2 separate regions of the Homo sapiens genome follow, and region 1 is linked to region 2. A link means that fine-mapping ties the variant in region 2 to the expression of a gene that starts in the linked region. Tissue or cell type: atrial appendage. Region 2 holds a variant in brackets; the other region holds the start of a gene. All regions are shown on one strand. Distances are between the middles of the regions.

What was found. PIP is the estimated chance that this variant, and not a neighbour inherited with it, causes the effect.
Region 1: SLC45A2 starts here. The variant in region 2 is the best candidate, but not a certain one, in a credible set for the expression of SLC45A2 in atrial appendage (GTEx, PIP 0.56).

The regions. Positions count from the first base shown.
Region 1 is chr5:33,980,777-33,988,351 of GRCh38, reverse strand. SLC45A2 (solute carrier family 45 member 2) reads left to right here and starts at 3,659. Exons shown (of 7, transcript NM_016180.5): 1 at 3,659-4,153; 2 at 5,940-6,116. The coding sequence starts at 3,769. AMACR (alpha-methylacyl-CoA racemase) reads left to right here. Exons shown (of 5, transcript NM_014324.6): 5 at 1-2,187. It overlaps C1QTNF3-AMACR (C1QTNF3-AMACR readthrough (NMD candidate)), which reads left to right. Exons shown (of 9, transcript NR_037951.1): 9 at 1-1,366.
Region 2 is chr5:34,471,204-34,478,778 of GRCh38, reverse strand. No RefSeq gene overlaps it. Among named protein-coding and RNA genes, the nearest start is that of RAI14-DT, 180 kb to the left of the region's middle. The variant T/C (reference allele first, on the strand shown) is at 4,148.

The DNA.
Region 1 (7,575 bases), 490 kb after region 2:
AGTTCTGGATCTTATACCCAACACACAGCAACATCCAGAAATAAAGATCTCAGGACCCCCCAGCAAGTCGTTTTGTGTCTCCTTGGACTGAGTTAAGTTACAAGCCTTTCTTATACCTGTCTTTGACAAAGAAGACGGGATTGTCTTTACATAAAACCAGCCTGCTCCTGGAGCTTCCCTGGACTCAACTTCCTAAAGGCATGTGAGGAAGGGGTAGATTCCACAATCTAATCCGGGTGCCATCAGAGTAGAGGGAGTAGAGAATGGATGTTGGGTAGGCCATCAATAAGGTCCATTCTGCGCAGTATCTCAACTGCCGTTCAACAATCGCAAGAGGAAGGTGGAGCAGGTTTCTTCATCTTACAGTTGAGAAAACAGAGACTCAGAAGGGCTTCTTAGTTCATGTTTCCCTTAGCGCCTCAGTGATTTTTTCATGGTGGCTTAGGCCAAAAGAAATATCTAACCATTCAATTTATAAATAATTAGGTCCCCAACGAATTAAATATTATGTCCTACCAACTTATTAGCTGCTTGAAAAATATAATACACATAAATAAAAAAATATATTTTTCATTTCTATTTCATTGTTAATCACAACTACTTACTAAGGAGATGTATGCACCTATTGGACACTGTGCAACTTCTCACCTGGAATGAGATTGGACACTGCTGCCCTCATTTTCTGCTCCATGTTGGTGTCCATATAGTACTTGATTTTTTATCAGATGGCCTGGAAAACCCAGTCTCACAAAAATATGAAATTATCAGAAGGATTATAGTGCAATCTTATGTTGAAAGAATGAACTACCTCACTAGTAGTTCACGTGATGTCTGACAGATGTTGAGTTTCATTGTGTTTGTGTGTTCAAATTTTTAAATATTCTGAGATACTCTTGTGAGGTCACTCTAATGCCCTGGGTGCCTTGGCACAGTTTTAGAAATACCAGTTGAAAATATTTGCTCAGGAATATGCAACTAGGAAGGGGCAGAATCAGAATTTAAGCTTTCATATTCTAGCCTTCAGTCTTGTTCTTCAACCATTTTTAGGAACTTTCCCATAAGGTTATGTTTTCCAGCCCAGGCATGGAGGATCACTTGAGGCCAAGAGTTCGAGACCAGCCTGGGGAACTTGGCTGGACCTCCGTTTCTACGAAATAAAAATAAAAAAATTATCCAGGTATGGTGGTGTGTGCCTGTAGTCCTATCTACTCAAGGGTGGGGCAGGAGGATCACTTGAGCCCAGGAATTTGAGGCCACAGTGAATTAGGATTGCACCACTGCACTCTAGCCCAGGCAACAGAACAAGAACCTGTCTCTAAATAAATAAATAAAAATAATAATAATAAAAAAGATGTTTTCCCTACAACTCAGACTTTTCATTTGAACTCGGTCCAGCAAGGAAAATATAACCCACTCGAAGTCTTTAAAACAGAGGAAATTTAATATAAAGAATTCCACTGGTGACGAAAGAGCAGAGAAGCCCAGAAGATAGTGAGGCAACCCTGATAGGAACATAACTAGGAAGCCAAGACCACTCCTATGGTTGCAGGGGTGATGGGAAAGCTGGTGTACTTGGACCCAGAAGCCAAAGTTGCTGCACCCACCTTGGAGACATAGACACTGGCAGTAATACCTCAGGGAGAAGAAAGAAATCTAGGGAAATATCCTGGCTTCTTTCCTTCTCTCTCTCCCCTAGTCTTCCTACCAGTGTCTCCCATTAGCCAAATCTACCTAGAAGCCAGAAAACAAGGGAACCCTGGAAATGTAGCCCCATAAGATAAAGAGCACCAAAGGAAATAGATCTGAGCAGACAGGCAGCACAAAATGCAGTGTGTATGGTTTATTCACTCAGTAATTCCTTTAGCAAATGTTTATTGAGGATCTACTAGGTGCCAGGTATCATGATACTTGCTGGGGATACCATAATGAACAAAACAGACCTGTTCTCCGCTCTTGAGGAAATCAAAGACAAACACAGGATATGGAATAAACCCAGAATTATCTCATTGTAAAATGTGTTAAGTACCACGAGGAGAAATATCAGGGCGATCTGACACAGCTAATGATTTGAAGAAGGGTGTGACCTGCCACCATTTTAAATCTAGTTATTTCACTCCTGAGCTGTGTGTGTGGAAAACTTGTAGTAAAAAATAGAATGTCTATATTTATAAAAAGTTTATGAAAAGATATCAATTTATTTACATTTTGACAAACTCTATGTAATAAGGCTTTATTACCTCACGGCCATGTGTGTGATCATGTGTAATAGCATGTGTGTATGAGAGAGAGAAGCCATATGTAATTATGTGTAATAACGTCTGTGAGAGAGAAGCCATGTGTGTGATCATGTAAAATAACGTGTGTGAGAGAAGCCATGTGTGTGATCGTGTAAAATAACGTGTGTGAGAAGCCGTGTGTGATGTGTAATAACACGTGTGTGAGAGAGAAGCTATGTGTGCAATCATGTGTAATAGCATGTGTGTGTGAGAGAAGCCATGAGTCCGATCATGTGTAATAACGAGAAAAGCCCCATGTGTGATCATGTGTAATAGTGTGTGTGAGAGAAAAGCCATGTGTGTGGTCATGTGTAATAATGTGTATGAGAGAGAAGCCGTGTGTGATCGTTGTGTAATAACGTGTGTGAGAGAGAAACCATGTGTGATCATGTGCAATAGCATGTGTGTGTGAGAGAAGCCATGTGTGATCATGTGCAATAGTGTGTGAGAGAGAAGCTGTCATGTGTAATAATGTGTGAGAGAAGCCATGTATGATCATGTGTAATAACGTGAGAGAAGCCATGTGTGACCATGTGTAATAACGTGTGTGAGAGAAGCCATGTGTGTGGTCATGTGTAATAAAATGCATGAGAAGCCATGTGTGATCATGTGTAATAGCATGTGAGAGAGAAGCCATGTATGATCATGTGTAATAACGCATGTGAGAGAAGCCATGTGTGACCATGTGTAATGTGTGTGAGAGAAGCCATGTGTGATCATGTGTAATAGCATGTGTGTGAGAAGCCATGTGTATGATCATGTGTAATAACATGCATGAGAGAAGCCGTGTGTGATCATGTGTAATAGCATGTATGTGAGAAACCATGTGTGATCATGTGTAATGTGTGTGAGAGAAGCCATGTGTGTGATCATGTGTAATAGCATGTGTGTGAGAAGCCGTGTGTGATCATGTGTAATAGCATGTGTGTGTGAGAAGCCAGGTGTGATCACGTTTAATAGCGTGTGTGTGAGAGAAGCCATGTGTGTGATCATGTGTAATAATGTGTGTGTGAGAGAAGCCACGTGTGTGATCATGTGTAATAGCATGTGTGTGTGAGAGAGAAACCATGTGTGTGATCATGTGTAATACTGTCTGAGAGAGCCCATGTGTGTGATCACGTGTAATAACGTGTGTGTGAGAGGGAGAGAAGCCATGTGTGTGATCACGTGTAATTGTGTGTGTGTGTGAGAGAGAGAGAAAGAGAGAGGGAACAGTACAAAGGAGGATCCCTTTAGAAAAGTATTCCAACGTCTTATGGAGCCAGAGGGCTGATTCACAGCTGCTAATCTCTGTCATGCTTTCCAGCACCACCCCCTCCCTCTCATCATAACTTGTGATCTTAGAGGCAGGAAAGAATTTGAGCCCCTCCCCCAGCCTGACCATCTCTGTTGGTTGCTCGGCCAGGCTCCACGTCAAATCCAGTTTGAAACACAGACCCTAGGACCACGCAGGAGGTGGTGGGCTCGCAGGAAGGTTCCTCTCCCAGTGGCCATGGGTAGCAACAGTGGGCAGGCTGGCCGCCACATCTATAAATCCCTAGCTGATGATGGCCCCTTTGACTCTGTGGAGCCGCCTAAAAGACCCACCAGCAGACTCATCATGCACAGCATGGCCATGTTCGGAAGAGAGTTCTGCTACGCGGTGGAGGCAGCGTATGTGACCCCAGTCCTGCTCAGCGTAGGTCTGCCCAGCAGCCTGTACAGCATTGTGTGGTTCCTCAGCCCCATCCTGGGATTCCTGCTGCAGCCCGTGGTCGGATCGGCCAGCGACCACTGCCGGTCCAGGTGGGGCCGCCGGAGACCCTACATCCTCACCCTGGGAGTCATGATGCTCGTGGGCATGGCTCTGTACCTCAATGGGGCTACTGTTGTAGCAGGTAAGTGGGCTGCACAAGGTGGGCAGACAGGGATATGTGTCTTAGTGTGTACCTCTGCAGGAGGAGGATGTTCATGTGTTTGACCTTTCCTAGAAATTTGTTAGAATTGATCTCTCCTAGGTTACAATGAACTTCCCCTTTGACAAATTTGGCCCAGATTCTGTGGTTGGGGAGCCTCTACTTCTAGAAATATCAAAATAAATATGTTTCATTGTTGTGAAGATTTAAAAATAGGATTAAATTTGTATCTATTTTATTAAATTTGTATCTATTTTATCGAATTGAATATTTTTACATATTTATCAATTGAGTTACTTTTTGAGCCCATTATGCTCTATTTAATACTCTTATCAAATTGACTGGCTGCCAAATAGCTCCATAAATATTTACAATAAGTCACCTGTGTATCCAAATAAGTTAATTCTGTTCATAGTTTTATGTAGAGCGTTTTAATAGGCGTAGGGCATAAGCCCATCAGCTCAAGAGGACCTTTCTGGCATTGCAAATTCTGGACAAAAGCAAACCTGAGGGTAGGCATTTTTTCTAGCCATTAATCAGCTACCAATTAATCAGTAATTGATGGTAGTACAATAAAGTTGCATTGCAAAAAGGATCGCTAAAAATAGCACACATTTGTAGATCATTAACTCTCAAGCTAGCAGAATCGGTGATTATGAGGCAGGATAATCAATTATCATTTGTACATATTTGAAAGAAAGCGTAAATGTACAAATGTAGGATATTTCCAGGAGAATGAACAAAAAGCTGATAAGCATTGTTGACTCTAAGGAGGATTACTGAAGGACAGGAGGTGAGAAGTGGCGGGTAGACTTATTGTTCATTTAATTTTATACTGCAATTTTTAAAACGTGTATATAATCTATGCTATTCTTAAGTTTAAAAAGCAAATGGAAACAAGAGAAACAACAATGTATCTTTTATAGGAGATTGGGTAAACGATTACAGCGTATCCGTAGAATGAAAATCCAGCTGTTAAAAATTGTGAGGAGCTGAAATTATATGAAGAAAGTTGGTTACTGCATCAGTGCTGTTCAAAGATGTGGCCTCTGACCTGCCCCTCAGCATCAGCAGAGACCGTTAGAGATGCAGTTTCTCGGGCCCCCTTCAGGCCCACCAATTGAATCAGAGTCTTGGGAAATGGGGCCAGCAATCTGTGTTTTAACAAGACATACAAGCGATAGTTCAATATGCCAGACTTTGAGAAGCACTGCGTTTGACTACCATTGTACACGTGTGTCTGTATGTGCAGAAGTGCGTAAAAGGAGGCCTTAAAGCCTGACCTTTGCTGGGGCTGGGATTGGAAGCATCTCCCTCAGCTTTTTTAATAGAATTGGAATTGCTTGCGATAAGCATGCATACTTTTTTATTTAAGGAGATATTTTACATACCAGAAATTTCACTAATTAAAAGTGTACAATTCAGTGCCTTTAGTATGTTGTGCAACCATTACCACTCTCTAATTCTACAACATTTTCATCACCCCCAAAATAAACCCATTACCATCAATAGTCACGTCCACTTTTCCCCTATGCACCAGCCCTAAGCAACCACTAATTTACTTTGTGTCTCCATAGATTTGTGTTTTCTGGACATTCGCTTGCATAATTTTTAAAACCTGAAAAAAAATGTAAAGCTATTTTTATTTGGAAAAAAGCAAAATAAAAGCAAGGAAGATGATTTTATGGCAAGAAGTTTAGGTGGAAATTACAAAACGCGGATGATTCTAAAACAGGATTTAGGAGACCAATGTTTATTTTTCTTTTAGCTTTGATTGCTAACCCAAGGAGGAAGCTGGTTTGGGCCATAAGTGTCACCATGATAGGTGTCGTTCTCTTTGATTTTGCTGCCGACTTCATTGATGGGCCCATCAAAGCCTACTTATTTGATGTCTGCTCCCATCAGGACAAGGAGAAGGGCCTCCACTACCATGCCCTCTTCACAGGTAGGGAATATTCCAGAAAGTCTCTCCTTCAGCTCCCCAGACAATGAGGCACTTCCACTAAAGCCATCCAGTGTCTCTACACGTGGAGTTTTTTGAATGAACGGGTCAGCTGATGGGCTGCTCCCGTCATGCGGGCACTGTCTCCCCGTGCATTTCTCTGAACAGTCAGCTTGTGACTAGTGCTGCAGTTTCTGCAAAGGAAGTTTACAGAAGAGCTTTCTTAAGAATGCTTTGTGGAGACAATTACAACTGAAATGGAAAGAAGCCTTGTGGATTGTACTTTTGCATTAGAGCAGAGGATCTCAAGCATCAGCAATGTAGCATCCACATTCCTTAGAAGGTCATTGAAAATACAGTTGCCTGGGCTCCTTCTCCAGTTATTCTGATTCAGTGAGTCTAAGGCGGGGCCCAGACATTTGTATTTTATTTAATAAAGACCCCAGATGATTTTGTGGCAGGTTTAAAAAACAAAAAGAGAAAACAAACCAAGCAAACAAAAAACTCAACGTCTTAGAAATTTCTTAGTTATGTAAAAGGTTGGCATTTCCTCAACCTTGTGGTTTGAAAAAGTTCATGCCAGGAGGAAAATGGGAGCTCTCTTGATCTCTTGGGACTGTTGCCAGCCTACTTTGGTTACTGTTGGTCAATTGTTTAGAGCAATGCTACTCAGAGCACCAGTTAGGACTATGCTAGAACTAGGCATTGAAATATAAGGCGACAGGAGGATCCTGGCCCAAGAGGATTTTTATATCTAAGAGGGGGACTCTATCAGCCCACCTTATTTGATTGTCTTTGTAGCCCAGCCAATGCCTTTATTTATGTTTTGATGTATTCTCTCTCCTTCCATGGCCAGGTAGGTCCATGAAAAGCAAGATTTCAAGTTTTGCTCATAGTTTCTGTCTCTAGAGCTAAGACTGCTGCCTGCCCATGGAAGCCACTGGAGCCAATATTTGTCATTTGAGCAAACATTTGAATAGTTGAAAACATGAAGGAGTGAGGCCGTTGGAGCACAGTTGGTAGATCCTCCTCTGTGTAAGGAAGGCAGAGGGGCAGGAGTGCAGCCCCGTCTGTCACTGGCCCCTGCCCACTATGTCTCCAGGTGTTTAAAGGCACCTAAGACATGGCCAGGGCTTGAGACTTCCCCTGCCTCACCTTTGCTCTTGGCTTCCCTTCCCACTGCACTTTCCACGTGTGTCTCCTCACTCGGGTGCTCCCACCCCGCTGGCGTCCTTCTGTCTCTGGGGTCAGCCCAGCCCATCATACCTGCCCCAGGGTTTGGCATGAGCTCTTGCCCTGCCTGGGACACCCTTCCCCATATAATCCCATAGTCATGCCTTTATTCCACTCAGATTTCTCATCAGATATCTCTCATCAGTGAGGTCTTTCTTGGCTACCGTACCTGGCATAGTATGACCACTCCTCTTTCTCCTCATCCTTATTGGGTTTGATTTTTCTTTCT
Region 2 (7,575 bases):
AAGTAACACAGGATCCCAGAAATATGCCGATACATAAAGCCCGAGGTCAAAAGGTCGAACGGGGCACTTGATCTCTCAAAATGCCCTCCTGGCCCTCTTCTAAGTGTGCTTTTCTTCCTTTCATTCCTGCTGTAAAGCTTTTTAATAAACCTCCTGCTCTAACACTTGATGCAGTCTCTCTCCTTCTGCCTTCTGCCCCTCAAATTCTTTCTTCTGTGGAGGTAAAAATTGAGGTTGTTGCAGACCTGTCTGGATACGGATTTGCCCTGGATTAACTGCCCTAAACAGTTCTATTGACTCTCTCCCTGACAGTGTCACTTGCCAGCCTATCTTCACAGGTAGAGGACAAGGACAACACCAGAAATCATCCCTTTGCCCACCCTAAGACGAATGCCTCATTGACTTGTCCCATTCCTTCTTGTCATGTGTTTAGTTTACCTTACATAAGATGTAGATTTTCCAAGAGAGACAGGACATAATTGACCTCCCTGTACAGTTCTGCAGATAGTACAGGCAGCATAGTGCCAGCCTCTGGTTCTGCTGAGGTCTTAGGATGCTTTTACTCATCACAGAAGGTGAAGAGGGAGCAGGTGTGTCCCACTGATGAGACAGGGAGTGAGAGAGGGGAGGAGGTGCCAGGCTCTTTAAACAACCAGCTCTTGCCTGAAGGAACAGAGCAAGAACCCACTCATTACTGCAAGGAGATCACCAAGTCATTCCATGAGGAATCCACACTTATGACCCAAACACCTCCCATCAGGCCCCACCTCCAGCAATGGGGACCCCATTTCAACATGAGATTTGGAGGAGACAAACCAAACCGTATCAGGCAGCTAGTGTGAGACCCTTGCAGACCCCCATGGGACCTGCCGCTGTAGGTCAGCTGAAGCAACCACGCCTCTCTTCTGGTGGGCTTCTTCTGACTCCTCTCTCAGGCCCTGGGCTTTGGTTGCCTGGCCCGTCAGGGTCGCATTTTGATCCCCACAGAGTCTTCTCAGAGGGGCTCTGTTTCACAGCGCCACGTCTGGCCCCAGCAAGCACGCACACTTGCTCCAGCGCAGCCGTTGCCCCCTTCTGCCTGTTCCAACCAGACCCTGAAGAGAGATGTCGAAGGTAGGTGTGGCACTGATTCCTGTGTCCTCTAAGCCCCTGTGACATAAGTCAGGGTTCATTCTCTCATGACTTTCCCTCTTAATCCTCCACATCAATGTACCCCTAGACCTCCTCAGCCTCAACCCCTTTGTGTGTGTCAGGTGAGTGATGAAGCAATGTGGTGTGGTAGTCAGCTCGGCTGCCATCACAAATACCCCAGACGGGGTGGCATAAATAACAGAAATGTGCTTTCTCACAGTTCTGGTAAGTCCGGGCTCGAGGTGTCAGCCTTGATCCCAGTGAGAGCTGTTTCCTGCCTTATCCTCGGATAGCCTTTCTTCCGAGGGGCTGGGGAGCCACATGCATGAACTCTCTGGCCTTTGACGTCTTTTCTGGTAAAGACGCTAATCCTATCAGATCGGGGCCCTGCCTTATGACCTGATTTAACCTTAATTACCTCTTAAAGATACCATCTTAAAATACAGTCACATCGAGCGTTACTGCTTCCAAGTCTGAATTTAGGGGTAGGGGGTACAATTCAATCCACAGCAGCTGGCAAAACCAGTTTGGTTTACCTTCTGGGATAGTCCTGCTTAAATGTTCTCAGCCTTGATCTAGAAGCAGGTGGAAGGGCACTTGGCACTTGCTGCTTTGTTGTTTCCTTTGGAGAAGGGTAGAAACTCTTAAGACAACGGGATGCATCACCTTTCCCTTCCTATAACATAACCTGTCATTGTGGAACTGGAGAACCCACACCATGATCCTTCTCACAATTAAGGATGCATCTTCCCCTGAAAGCATAAGCTCCTTACGGTCAGGGGGTAAATCTTAGACAGTGATCACAGTGGTCGTTTGTTTGTTCTACCTATGGAAAAGCTCAATGGTTATTCACTAAGATGAACTGAAGCAAGGGTTGTGGAAGGTTCACTTTGCCACCTGTCTGCATAAGCAGGGCCACCGTAGGCAGCGATCCAGGGATCAGTTACTTCCCAACCAATCTGTTCTGTGGGAGTTGACACTCCTCATCCTTATTGAGGTCTATCACAGAGTTGGTATCCAGAGAGAAGGTAACAAAGGAAGGCATTTTCTAGCAAGTAGCAGCTTTTATTATTTTTAAATATTTTTATTATTTTATTATTTCCTATTTGCATAGGAAACGGTGGTATAGAGGCATCCATTATGAGCTGGTCACAGAGGTGTGCCTCCATGGTGTGACAGGGTACTTACTGAAGAATTTTGAGTTTACATTTTATTTCTTTTGTGGAAAATAGCAGCTGGTACTTCTTTGCTTTAGGGAAGGTTTATAGCAGGTTGAAAGCAGGTATTGCTTTCAAACCATCTCCTCTTAACATTTGTTTATGGATGCTTAAATCCATTGAGGAGAATAGAGTTTGATGTCAGAAAAGAAAACTAGCAAAGAGCTGCCTCACCCATTGTCTTTATGTTTCTGAAATTTGTGACACAAAGAACATTCTACAGCCCATCAATAGCTTACGTTATTTTAATGTAAGTTCTTGGTAAGCAACTTAGGAACTGCTTTAAAAACCCACTTCCTTTAAAAACCCACTTGTAACTGCTGTTAATGGGAGCATAGATTCAGGGCAACTTGGGTCTCTGCCCCTTGGTTGCAGTGCTCAAACTTGGCCCAAATAAACTCTCTACTTATGTCAATTCTGCCTCCATTTTTTCCTTTAGATGGACAGAGGTGAATGAAAGAGAGGGCCTTGGAGGGCAGCCTGAAGAGGAAGAGAGGGACGCAAGGCCAGCATAAACAAAAGAGTAGTCCTGGGGTGCTGGGAGGAGAAGACATCTGTGCCTTGGGTCCTAAGAGTGCTCTGAGGATGTGAAAGGACCCAGAAGGACAGCAGAGAGGCCTGTCCTATGTTCCTTGGTCCCCAACCTTGCCAAGGTGCTCAGGTTCCAAACCTGACACTAAAGCAAGACAGCCGTAGGCCAGATGAGGTCATGGGAGCAGGAACAATGAACATTGAATTAACATCATTGTCTGGGGTAAATACCTGAGATTTGTTGTCTCACGGCGGCAGAAAACTAGGAAGGGGATAAAGAGTGAGCTTAGCGGAAGTTTAGTAGGCGAAAGAAAGAGAATAGCTCTCTCTGTTGCGAAGATAGGGGTCCTGAACAGGTTTTTCGGTTCTGTGGTGAAATGCAGAGGGTTTTATAGATGAGCTTGAGGAGACAGTGTGTGATTTACATAGGGTACGAATGATTGGTGGGACTAGTGTCATTTGCATAAGGTGCGAAAAACTGGTTAGGGCTAGGTATGCCATTTGCATAGGGCCCAAAAAGCTTGCTGACCCCACGCTAATCTTTTATTATGCAAATAATTCTCTACCTGGCCAGCGCCATGTTGCCTATTTCTTTACTGTACACGTGGTGACAAAGAAAAGGGAAGATGGAGCCTCCATGTTGAACATACCTGGCTTCCAGGTAGCCCTTTTCTATTGGCATAGCTGCCGGCATTCACCCGTGCAAGCTTCCAGCTTGCTTATCTATGTTCGCAGCTAGATTTTCAGGCTGCTCTTTGTTAGAAAAAAATGCTTTCTTGGGCTGCTTTTTGTTAAAAGGGAAGCCTTGCTGAGGACTTTTTTACCCTCACTATCTGCCTAAATAATTTCTTTCTATCTCCTGTCTCAGCATCTCAGTGGTCCTCATTGAGAACAGGTAACCAGTGCCAGCAGGGGCTCCTAGTTCATTGGTAAAACCCTGAACATTGACACCTTTCATTTCCCTGGGGTTAAATGGAAGAGAGAATTGCCCCAAGAAGGACGGAAGTTTCATTTTCTTTGGCTCCTGAAGTAGTACACAAGCGGATTTATAGAAAACAAAGACCTTTAGTATTTCTTACATCCTAGAATCTGGAGACTTGAGATTCATGCCTATTGCATTATTTCAGAAAAGAGATTTGGTTGTGAACTCTGCTCCAAGACATTGCTTGGTCAAGGAAGCCTAAGTTTTAGCCACCTGGACACGATCTCCATCTAGTGGTCATACTATGTAACAGCACTTGCACACAGCTTTGAGAGGTTTGGTATTC[T/C]GTATTTTGCTCTTCTCCGGAGAAATTCAATATAGCAGAAATATAGTACATAATATAATGCAGATATGAGAGATTCTACAGCCTACAAACAGTTCTAAAACGGGCTAGAATTTGGGAGGTGAAGCAACAGGGTAGCATTGTAATTTTATTAAATTTCAGAATAATTTTAGATTTATGTTAAAGTTGTAAAGTGGCCAGGCGCAGTGGCTCACGCCTGTATCCCAGCACTTTGGGAGGCCGAGGCGGGCAGATCACCTGAGGTCAGGAGTTCGAGCCTGGCCAACATGGTGAAACCCCATCTCTACTAAAAATACAATAAATTAACCGGGTGTGGTAGCCCAGGCCTGTAATCCCAGCTACTTGGGAAGCTGAGGCATGAGAATCGCTGGAACCTGGGAGACAGAAGTTGCAGTGAGCCGAGATCATGCCACTCCACTCCAGCCTGGGCAACAGAGTGAGACTCTGTCTCAAAAAAAAATTAATAAATGAATAATAAATAAATAAAGTTATAAAGTGATACAGAGTTCCCATACACACCTCACCCAGGTTCCTCTAGGTTAAAATCTCACATTACCATGATACGTTTGTCAAAACTAAGAGACTAGCATTTCCACATTATTGTCAAAATCCAGACTGTATTTTAATATCACTAGTTTTTCAACTAATGTCCTTTTTCTGTTCCAGGATCCCACTCAGGACAGCACATCTCATTCTGTCCTCATGTTCCCTCAGTTTCCTCTAGTCTGTGAGAGATTTCATGACAGCAGTTTTGAGGAGTAATAGCCAGGTATTTAGCCAGTTTTGAGGAGTAATAGCCAGAATGTCCCTCAATTGTAGATGTGTGGTGTTATTTCTGAGGCCTCCGTTTTGTTCCATTGGTCTACATCTCTGTTTTGGTACCAGTACCAGTTGCTGTTTTGGCTACTGTAGCCTTGTAGTATAGTTTGAAGTCAGGTAGCATGATGCCTCCAGCTTTGTTCTTTTTGCTTAGGATTGTCTTGGCTATACAGGCTCTTTTTTGGTTCCATATGAAGTTTAAAGCAGTTTTATCTAGTTCTGTGAAGAAAGTCAATAGTAGCTTGATGGGAATAGCATTGAATCTATAAATTACTTTGGGCAGTATGGCCATTTTCATTATATTGAGTCTTCCTATCTATGAACATGGAATTCTTTTTCCATTTGTTTGTATTCTCTCTTATTTTCTTGAGCAGTGGTTTGTAGTTCTCCTTGAAGAGGTCCTTCACATCCCTTGTAAGTTGTATTCCTAGGTATTTTATTCTCTTTGAAGCAATTGTGAATGGGAGTTCACTCATGATTTGACTCTCTGTTTGTCTGTTATTGGTGTATAGGAATGCTTGTGATTTTTGCTCATTGATTTTGTATCCTGAGACTTTGCTGAAGTTGTTCATCAGCTTAAGTTTTTAGGCTGAGAAGATGGGGTTTTCTAAATATACAATCATGTCATCTGCAAACGGAGACAATTTGACTTCCTCTCTTCCTATTTGATACGCTTTATTTCTTTCTGTTGACTGATTGCTCTGGCCAGAACTTCCAACACTATGTTGAAAAGGGGTGGTGAGAGAGGGCATCCTTGTCTTGTGCTGGTTTTCAAAGGGAATGCTTCCAGCTTTTGCCCATTCAGTATGATATAGGCTGTGGGTTTGTCATAAATAGCTGTTATTATTTTAAGATGCGTTCCATCAGTGCCTAATTTATTGAGAGTTTTTAGCATGAAGGGGTGTTGAATTTTGTCAAAGGCTTTTTCTGCATCTATTAAGATAATCATGTGTTTTTTGTCATTGGTTCTGTTTATGTGATGGATAATGTTTATTGATTTTCATATGTTGAGCCAGCCTTGCATCCCAGGGATGAAGTCGACTTGATCATGGTGGATAAGCTTTTTGATGTTCTGCTGGATTCGGTTTGCCAGTATTTTATTGAGGATTTTTGCATCGTGTTCATCAGGGATATTGGCCTGAAATTTTCTTTTTTTGTTGTGTCTCTGCCAGGTTTTGATGCTGGCCTCATAAAATGAGTTAGGGAGGATTCCCTCTTTTTCTATTGTTTGGAATAGTTTCAGAAGGAAAGCTACCAGCTCTTATTTGTATCTCTGGTGGAATTCGGCTGTGAATCCGTCTGGGCCTAGGCTTTTTTTGGTTGGCGGGCTATTAATTACTACCTCAATTTGGTGTTGGTCTACTCAGGGGTTAGACTTCTTCCTGGTTTAGTCTTGGGAGAGTATATGTGTCCAGGAATTTATCCATTTCTTCTAGATTTTCTAGTTGTTTTTTTTTTTTTTTGTGTGTGTGTGTGTGTGTGTGTGTGTGTGTGTAGAGGTGTTTATAGTATTCTCTGATGGTAGTTTGTATTTCTGTGGGATCAGTGGTGATATTCCCTTCATCATTTTTTATGGTGTCTATTTGATTCTTCTCTTTTTTCTTCTTTACTATTCTGCCTAGTGGTCTATCTACTTTGTTAATCTTTTCAAAGAACCAGCTCCTGGATTTGTTGATTTTTTGAAGGTTTTTTTTGTCTCTATCTCCTTCAGCTCTGCTCTGATCTTAGTTATTTCTTGTCTTCTGCTGGCTTTTGAATTTTTTGCTCTTGCTTCTGTAGTTCTTTTAATTGTGATGTTAGGGTGTCAATTTTAGATCTTTCCCACTTTCTGATGTGGGCATTTAGTGCTATAAATTTCCCTCTAAACACTGCTTTAGCCTCTGAGTTCTAATTTGATTGCACTGTGGTCTGAGAGGTTGTTAATGATTTCCGTTCTTTTGCACTTGCTGAGGAGTGTTTTACTTCCAATTATGTGGTCAATTTTAGAATAAGTGTGATGTGATGCTGAGAAGAATGTATATTCTGTCGATTTGGGGTAGATATCTGTCGACATCTATTAGGTCTGCTTGGTCCAGAGCTGAGATCAAGTTCTGAACATCCTTGTTAATTTTCTGTCTCCTAGATCTGTCTAATATTGACAGTGAGGTGTTAAAGTCTCCCACTATTATTGTGTGGCAGTCTACTTCTCTTTGTAGGTCTCTAAGAACTTGTTTTATCACTCTGGTTGCTCCTGTATTGGGTTCGTGTATATTTAGGATAGTTAGCTCTTCTTATTGGATTGATCCCTTTACAATTATGTAATGCCCTTCTTTGTCTTTTTTGATCTTTGTTGGTTTAAAGTCTGTTTACCAGAGACTAGGATTGCAACCCCTGCTTTTTTTTGCTTTCCCTTTGCTTGGTAAATACTCCTCTATCCCTTTATTTTGAGCCTATATGTGTCTTTGCACAAGAGATTGGTCTCCTGAATACAGCACACCAATGGGTCTTAACTGTTTATCCAATTTCCCAGTCTGTGTCTTTTAATTGGGGAAGTTAGTCCATTTACATTCAAGATTAATATTGTTATGTGTAAATTTGATCTTGTCATCATG